Linked DNA regions of Homo sapiens: region 2 is linked to region 1. The links come from fine-mapping of genetic effects on gene expression. A gene starts in region 1. The other region holds a variant in brackets. All regions are shown on one strand. Distances are from middle to middle.

Region 1 (4,382 bases):
TGACAGGGTTTCACCATGTTGGTTGGCCAGCTGGTCTCGAATTCCTGACCTCAGTTGGTCCATCCTCCTCGGCCTCCCAAAGTGCTGGGATTATAGGTGTGAGCCACCACGCCTGGCTTGTTTTGTATTTTATTTATGTATTTGCTTTTTTAGACGGAGTCTCACTCTGTCGCCCAGGCTGGAGTGCAGTGGCGCAATCTCGGCTCACTGCAACCTCCGCCTCCCGGGTTCAAGCAATTCTCTGCCTCAGCCTCCCGAGTAGCTGGGATTACAGGTGCCTGCCACCACACCCGGCTCATTTTTCTATTTTCAGTAGAGATGGGGTTTCACCATCTTGGCCAGGCTAGTCTTGAACTCCTGACCTGGGGATCCACCCGCCTTGGCCTCCCAAAGTGCTGGGATTACAGGCATCAGCCACTGTGCCCAGCCGTTTTGTATTTTTTTAGTAGAGACGGGGTTTCCCCCATGTTGGCCAGGCTGGTCTCGAACTCCTGGACTCAAGTGATCTGCCTGCCTCGGCCGCCCAACGTGCTGGGATTGCAGGTGTGAGCCACCGCGACCGGCCGCTTTCTCTTTCTTTCGAGACAAGGTCTTGCTTTGTCACCCAGGCTAGAGTGCAGTGGTGCTATCATAGCTCACTGAGCCTAGAACTCCTGGTCTCAAGATACCTCCGCCTTATTCTCCTGAATAGCTGGGTTTACAGGCATGTGCCACCGTGCCCGGCTTTTTTTTTTTTTTTTTTTTTTTTTTGAGTCTCTTGCTCTGTCGCCCAGGCTGCAGTGCAGGTGGTGCAATCTCGGCTCACTGCAAGCTCCGCCTCCAGGGTTCACGCCATTCTCCTGCCTCAGCCCCCGGAGTAGCTGGAACTATAGCGCCCGCCACTACGCCCGGCTAATTTTTTTTGTATTTTTAGTAGAGATGGGGTTTCACCGTGTTAGCCAGGATGGTCTCGATTTCCTGACCTCGTGATCTGCCCGCCTTGGCCTCCCAAAGTGCTGGGATTACAGGCGTGAGCCACCACGCCCGGAGTTTTTTTTTTTTTTTTTTTAAGAGGGAAGTGGGGTTTCTCTATGTTGCCCAGGCTGGTCTTGAATTTCTGGCCTCAAGCGATCCTCTTGCCTCGGCCTTCCAAAGTGCTGGGATTACAGGTGTGAGCCACCACACCTGGCCAATTCAGTCTTAAACCAATTTTCTGAGGCTTCGTTTTGGCAAGGCTACTTATCTGTTTTAAAAATAAACGATGTATTTTAGTAAAAGAAAAAAAATGGAGGAAAAAACAGGGTTTTGATCTCATGGAATAATTATGAGGCTAATCTAATGAGCTTCATAAAATACTATACCCATACATAGTATGCTTGTTATTTTATTGTTTTGTCAGGGTCCAGAGAACTAGGCCACTGTGTTGCTTAGGCACCGTGTCTGCACATAGTTCATTCCGGTGTACATTCATTCATCTTTACACTAGAATGTTAGTTTCAAGAACTCAGTCACCTCGTCTACACTGTCCTTTAATCCCCAATACCTGCGACAGTTCCTGGGGCAAAAACAAATGCTTGTTGAATTAAAAAGAAAAACTGGGCCGGGCGTGGTGGCTCACGCCTGTAATCCCAGCACTTCGGGAGGCCGAGGCAGGCGGATCACCTGAGGTCAGGAGTTCGAGACCAGCCTAACATGGTGAAACCCCGTCTCTACTAAAAATACAAAAACATTAGCCGGGTGTAGTGGTGGGTGCCTGTAATCCCAGCTACTTGGGAGGCTGAGGCAGGAGAATCGCTTGAAGCCGGGAGGCGGAGGTTGCAGTGAGCCGAGATCACGCCATTGCACCCCAACCTGGGTAACAGAGCGACACTCTGTCTCAAAAAAAAAAAAAAATTCCTGTAGAAGCTCCCAAGCCCAATTAAAGCTCAAGGCTATCGTCCACGTAGTGGGTTCCAAATCGCTAAGTTCCCAGGCCAGCAGGGAGAGCGAGCCGAGCGAAGGTCGCCTGTGTCAAAGGCGGGGATTTGCACAGTATTTACATGGAAGCGGAGGAAAGGCTGCTTAGCAACCGGGCTGAGGGGACGGGCTGCACTGCGCACGCGTACATGGGCGGGGCATCTTGCGCATGCGCAGGCGACAGCTCATGGCGTTCAGGGCCTGACGGTTGCTAGGGTGACAGGGACACAACATGGCGGCGGGATCTCTAACGCTCTCCTTCGAGGGACCACCACGGAGATCCTAGTGCGGGACCCCGCCTCAGGGAAGTGGAAAGCAGGGGGACAACCTTCCTGCTTCTTTCTTTTCCGTCCAGTGTCGGCAAGGGGTTGTCACCGGCTTCCGCATCCAAGATGAAGAGTGAGTGGGGCCGGGGAAAGGGGCAGGGACTGGAGAGCGAGTGGCGGGGGAGGGAGGGACTGGGGGAGCTTGAGGAGCTTGAGGGGCCTGTGGGGCCGGGCGTCGTCGCCTTCTGCCGTGGCTCGACAGGCCCGGGAGGCTCCGCATGTGGGCCCCGAATCCCCCTCGGCTGTGAGAAGCCGGTGCCCCTGGGGGAAGCTTGAGGGGTTGGGGCTAGGTTGGGAACTTTGGGGTCTCGGAGAGCCGACTCGAGTTCCCGCTCAGGCATATTTTGGTGCAGGTGCGTGGTTCTTACATTGGAGTTTAGGGAGTTGACTGTGATTCATTTTATTTTATTTTAAATGCTGGCTTGAACCTGACACTCTTTTCCTGAACATTCGGCAGAAAACGGGGGAGCGCTTACAGCGTGGCTCCCTGCCTTTTCATGATACTGGTTTAGTGACCAATTGAGAGGAAAGCTGGGCTGTGTGCTTTATTTTATTTTTTGGGTCAAGCAGTAGTGTTTTATAGGAACCACTTTTTAATAGTAGTTTTGAAGCAACCTTTTAGTTAAAAGCTGTTACTTCAAAGTTGGGAAATGAGGTAGTCATTCTAGAAAATGTAACGGGTAAAAAATTTTCTTTAGTGGGATTTGTGGATTATTGACAATCCAAGTGCAACCAGCTAGAATGATGTTTTTAAAATTATTATTACTGTACAGATATAATTGTTTATGGTTGTGAACCAGAGGTGCAGTAAAAATTCAGACCTTTGCTGTGAAAATATTATGTTAGGAGTAGTTATAATGTTAAATTTGCATTGTATCCTAATTGTCAATGGTGTACATTGCATAACATTTAAAATAATTAATCTCATTCACCCTTTACAAGGCATTTTTATTTTTATTTTATTTTGTTGGATATTGTTTAATGTTTACCTTTTTCATTAATGCACTACAAAGCTGTAGTTAGAATCCAAGGTCTACAAAAGACTTTACACTTTTACTTACAGTGCAGACTATGATACTGCACATATTTTGTACTATATTCATTTTTTTCTTCCCATCTGTTTGTTTTGAAAATTTTCAGATGTACAGGAAAGTTGCAAGAGCAGTACATTGAATATTTATAAACCCGTCCTTCACTTAGCTGCACCATTTTGCCTTATTTTTGTGTGCTCGCTTTCGCTCTGGTGTTTTCTCTCTCCCATTTATGTATTTATTTTCACTGGACCTTTCAAGAGTTAGTTGTAGACTACTAATAATTCACCACTTCTTTCAGCAGTTATCTGCCAAGAACAAGGACATTCTCCTACATCATCACAGTACAAATAACACATTTAGAAAATTTAACAATGATACAATACTCTGATACACAGTCCATATTTCAGTTTTTCCATTTATCCCAATAACATGTGTTATAGTTGTTTATATTTTTTCTATCCAATCAAGAATCACCAATTGTATTCTGTTGTCATATCTCTTTGGTCTCTTTTAATATGGTGTCCCTGCCTTTTGTGTCTTTCATGACAATGATATTTTCATTTTTATTTGGCTGTCCTCTGTAGGCCAAATGACATTTTTAAAGAATCCAGCCCAGTGTTTTGCAGAATATCGCTCAATTTGGATTTGTCTGATTTTCGCCTCATGATTAGCTTCAGCTTAAATGTTTTTACCAGGAATATGTGAGAGGCAACGTTGTGTCTCTGTCAGTGTGGCCCTTCCAGAGTGCCTGATGTCAGTTCGTTGCAGTTTTGCTGAAGTTAGATTTGATCATTTGGTTTATTTATCTACCTTCTTTTTCTCTTAGACTCTTTTTTTTTTTGGACAGGGTCTCTCTGTGTCACCCTGGCTGGAGTGCAGTGGTGCAATCTTGGCTCACTGCAACCTCTGCCTCCCGGGTTCAAGTGATTCTCCTACCTCAGCCTCCCAAGTAGCTGAGATTACAGGTGTGCACCACCACGCCCAGCTAACTTGTATTTTTTGGTAGAGACGGGGTTTCAACATGTTGGCCAGGCTGGTCTCAAACTCCTGACGTCAAGCGATCCACCCGCCTCAGCCTCCCAAAGTG
Region 2 (4,382 bases), 69 kb after region 1:
GTGATAGGGTCACTTTGGCAGTAAGGAATCTCCTCTCTTGCCAGATGGTGGCGTGGGAATGAAGAATGTGATATACATCTTTGGAGTCTGTGTAAGTGTTGACTCGTTTGCCTTTGGAAAGGGTTAGGGCTCTGGTGAGAGCTATGAATTCTGCTTTTTGAGAGGAGGTTCCTGGAGGTAGGGGCTTAGCTTCAATTACTCGGTCAAGGGAAACAACTGCATACCCAGCAATTTTGGGGGAGCCAGTGGGCCCAGAAGGGGGGCCATCTATAAATAGCTGGTCATCGGGGTTGGTGAGAGGCTCGGAGGAAATGTTAGGAAAGTGTGGCTGCAGGTGATCTAGGACGTCAGTGCAAGAATGAGTAGGAAGGGAAGAAGATACAGGGAGTAAGGATGCTGGGTTGAAGGGAGCACTTTTGGCAAGACCGAATTCAGGATTTTTGATAGAGGGCATGGAGTAATTGAATCCGGAAAGGAGGGAGCCTCATGCTCGGGAGGAGAGGAGATCCTGTAGATTATGAGGACTGTAGGTGGTGGTATTTTGACTCAATGTTAGTTTCCTGCTTACAGCTAAAGTGGCCGCTGCTGCTAGCATTCTAAGACAGGTTGGCCATCCTCTGACTGTGTTGTCTAACTGTTTAGAGAGGTAGGCTACAGGGGCAAAGGAAGGAGGGTCTCCTTTCTGTTGCCCTAAGACACCGAGGGCTATTCCTCATCTTTTGGCAGTATAGAGTGTGAGAGGTTGGGAGATACCAGGTAAGGACAGAGCTGGTGCAGTGACAAGAGCGGTTTGAAGTTTGCAGAAGTTGGGGAGTATGTTACGTGAGGGATTTAGAGGCTCACTGAGAGGGCCTTTGGCTGCTTCATAGAGTGGGTGAGCTAGGAGGGCAAAGTTGGGAATCCATATTCTAAAAAAGCCTGCTAGTTCTAGGAAGGAAAGAACTTCGCTTTTGGAGGAGGGCGAGGGCAGATTATCTATTAGTGCTGCTAGGGCAGGGGTCATAGCCCGGGTCCCAGGGGAAAGTTGAACTCCTAGGTAAGTTACTATGGAGGTGGAAAGTTGAGCTTCGGAGGGGGAGACTCTATACCCTTTGATGGAGAGAAAGTTTTAAGAGAGTAACTGTGTGAGTTTGAGAGTCTTCTAGAGAGGGGCTGCAAAGGAGAAGATTGTCCACGTATTGAAGGAGACGGCTAGGGAAAAGGTTTAAGGAAGTGAGATCTTGAGCTAAAGCTTGTCCAAAGAAGTGAGGGTTATCTCTGAAGCCTTGAGGGAGGACAGTCCAGGTTAGTTGTTGTGACTGGAGGGTGTCAAGGTCGGTCCAGGTGAAAGCAAAGAGGTTTTGGGAATCAGGGTGCAGGGGAATAGTAAAAAAAGTCATCTTTTAGGTCAATAGCAGTGTAGCAGGTGGTGTTGGAGGGAATGAGACAGAGAAGTGTAGAGGGGTTAGGGACTATGGGATGAATAGGAAAGACAGCCTGACTGATGGCTCGGAGGTCTTGCAGGAGTCGGTATGAGCCGTCTGATTTTTTAACCAGGAGGATGGTGGTGTTATATGAAGAACGTGTTGGCCTAAGAAGACGGCGTGAACAGAGCTTGTTTGTGATGGGCTGTAAGCCTTTTTGGTGGGTTAGGGAGATAGGGTTTTTGGGGATGCTGGGAAATTTAGAGAGGTCTTTTAACTGGATTTTGATGGGGTC[G/A]TGGTGAGTAGCTAGGGAAGGGGTGGTGGTGTCCCACCCTGTTGGGTTTACAAAAGAGGTGGGAAGTGGGTACTGGGGAGAGGGGTCAGGGGCTGGACTCGCATAGAGGAGTAGGAGGGACTCCGGTTGAGGGAGGGAGAAAAAGGTGATAGAAGCTTTGAATTTGGCCAAAATTTGAATTTGAATTTGGCTTTGAATTTGGCCTAGGATGGGGGTAGGGCAACGAGGCATGATAAGGAAAGAGTGTGGGAAAACAGTATCAAACAGAGAGCAAGTAAGGGGTCTGGTGGCGCGTGGACGCAAGATGAGTCCATCAGCCCCCACAACTGAGACCTGAGAGGGATGAGTGGGTCCTGAAAATTCAGGCAAAGCTGAGTAGGTGGCCCCGCTATCAATTTAAAAAGAGATCGGCTTACCTGCTACTCGCAGAGTTACCCTGGGCTCCAATGCAGTGATGGCAGATGGGGCCGGGGGCCCTGGGCCCGGTCAGTCCTCAGCGGCTAGGCTGAGGAGCTGCGGGAATGCAAGCGGTTCTTCACTTTTTGTCTTGTTAAAGGGGTGGTGGCTCTGAGGAGCAGGCTTGTCTGTCTGTTGAGAGGACAGTCGGACTTCCAGTGGCCTGTCTGCTGGCACACTGGACAAGGACTCTTTGGCACTCAAGGGTTAGGATACACCCATGCCCAGTGGCCTTCTTTGCCACACTTAAAACAAGGCCCGGAGGGTTGCTGCTATCGGGTCTTTTGTGCCCTTGGGTGATACGGCTGGGTTGATGGACAGCCGCTGCTAGAAGCTGGTATTTAGCACGATCTCTTTGGGCTTTATCTAATTTATTTTGCTCATCCCTGTTATTAAAGACTTTGAAAGCCAAGTTAAGGAGGTCTCGTTGTGGGGTCTGAGGGGCATCTTCAGCCTTTTTAAGTTTGCGCCAGATGTCGGGGGCAGATTGGGAAATAAAATGGATGTAAAGAACAATAGTTCCTTCCCGGGAGGCGGGATCGACACGCGTGTATTTTTGGAGAGTCTCTGTAAGGCGAGAAAGGAATTGGGCAGGGTTTTCATTGGCCTTTTGGGAGATTCCTTTGAGTTTTTCGAAATTTACAGCCTTATGGGCAGTTTTGTTAAGGCCTGCAGTGAGGCAAGTAATCATATGATTACAGGAGGTCTGGCAGGGGCCTGTGGGTTGATACGCCCAGGTACGCTCTTCTCAGGGAACTGCAGCGGCCCCTACTGGCCTAGTAGGATCTTGCCGATGGAGGTCATCGGCATGGGCCTGGGCTGCAAGCCACACTCTTTCCTTTTCTTCCGGAAGGAGGGTAGAAGACAAAATAATATAGAGATCATGCCAAGTAAGTTCATAAGACTGGGTGAGATATTTAAATTATTTGATGTAAGTGTCGGGATCGGAGAAGAACCTGGACGTTTCTCAATTTGGGAAACATTAGAGAGGGAAAATGGGACGTGGACACGGACCATCCCTTCGGCCCATGCCACTTCCCGGAGAAGAAGCAAGGGAGCAGGCTGCTGGGCGTGTTGGGCTCGAGAACGAGTAAGGGGTGGAGATGGGGAGGACTCAGAGTCGGAGGTGGGGTGGTTGGAGAGAAGGGGAGAGAGAGGTAGAGCCGGAGCGGAGGCATACGGTGGGGGGTCATGCTGTTCCGGTGGAGGATTAGGATGTTGTCGAGGAGGGGAGAAATCGGTGGGATCAAAGAAGGAGAAGTCGTCCGCTGGGGCTATTGGGATGAGGGGAGCAGGAGGTGAGTCGGGTTTGGAGCAGGCGAGGAGAATTTGAAAAGTACAGCAGGACTGGCAGAGGGAGGGACGACTACAGAGAGTAAAGAAAGCCTGAACATGAGGAATCTCAGACCACTTCCCACTGCGGTGGCAAAAGTTGTCTAAGTCTCTGAGCATGTCGGAATCGAAAGTGCCATTTTCAGGCCATTGGGAGCCATGGTCTGATTTGTATTGAGGCCATGTGGTGTTACAGTAAAAGATAAGCCTTTTAGGGCAGATTTCTGAACGGAGGCCAAGAGTATACAGATTGTGTAGGAGGCACCCAAGGGGGGTAGTTTTAGGAGGAATAGACTGAGAGGCTCCCATAGTGAATGGAAGGGAGGGGGGTAGAGGAAGAAGAGACTGCCGGTGACGTCCCCTTTCCCGCGGAACTTGTCAGGAATAGAGGAGGTAACCACCGTGTCAGGCGTCCCTGAAACGGAGGAACCAGAGGCCTGGAGGCTGGAGGAAGCCCTTGGCCCAGCGCTGGGTCTTTCGGAAATGGGAGATGGACGGTCAAGAGTTCAGGGAATGGCAACAGTCTCTTTTTACTCACCCTGGCGGAGGCTTTGATGGTGGATGAAGTCACCAGCAATGGGAGAGTCTAGGAGATTGTCTGGGTCTTTGGCAGGTTCGGGGAAGGGGAGATTGGCCAGGAGAGGGGTGATAGGGGAGGGAGGGAGAGAGAGAGAAAAAGAGAGAGAGAGAGAGATTGATAGTGAGCGAGTCCTGGCCAGAGTCTATCCCCCTTCCCGGGTTTCGGCACCAGAATGTTAGGTCATCCGAGAGAAAGGAAAAATTGACCTAAAGTCAGGCAAGCAAGTTTTTATTAACCTGCCACCGGCCGCTTAACAGTCAGAGGAAGCAGCCCCAAGCTTACAGATTGAGGGGTTTATATTGGGGAAGGGAGTTTG

The links.
Region 2: its variant is fine-mapped to the expression of MOK in nasal epithelium (TOPMed, PIP 0.94).

Annotation. Positions count from the first base shown.
Region 1 is chr14:102,302,914-102,307,295 of GRCh38, reverse strand. It overlaps MOK (MOK protein kinase), which reads left to right and starts at 2,132. Exons shown (of 12, transcript NM_014226.3): 1 at 2,132-2,334. The coding sequence starts at 2,328. RefSeq lists enhancers at 1,913-1,962, 1,729-2,251.
Region 2 is chr14:102,234,027-102,238,408 of GRCh38, reverse strand. The region is part of intron 7 of MOK (MOK protein kinase); the gene reads left to right. Among named protein-coding and RNA genes, the nearest start is that of MOK, 69 kb to the left of the region's middle. The variant G/A (reference allele first, on the strand shown) is at 1,699.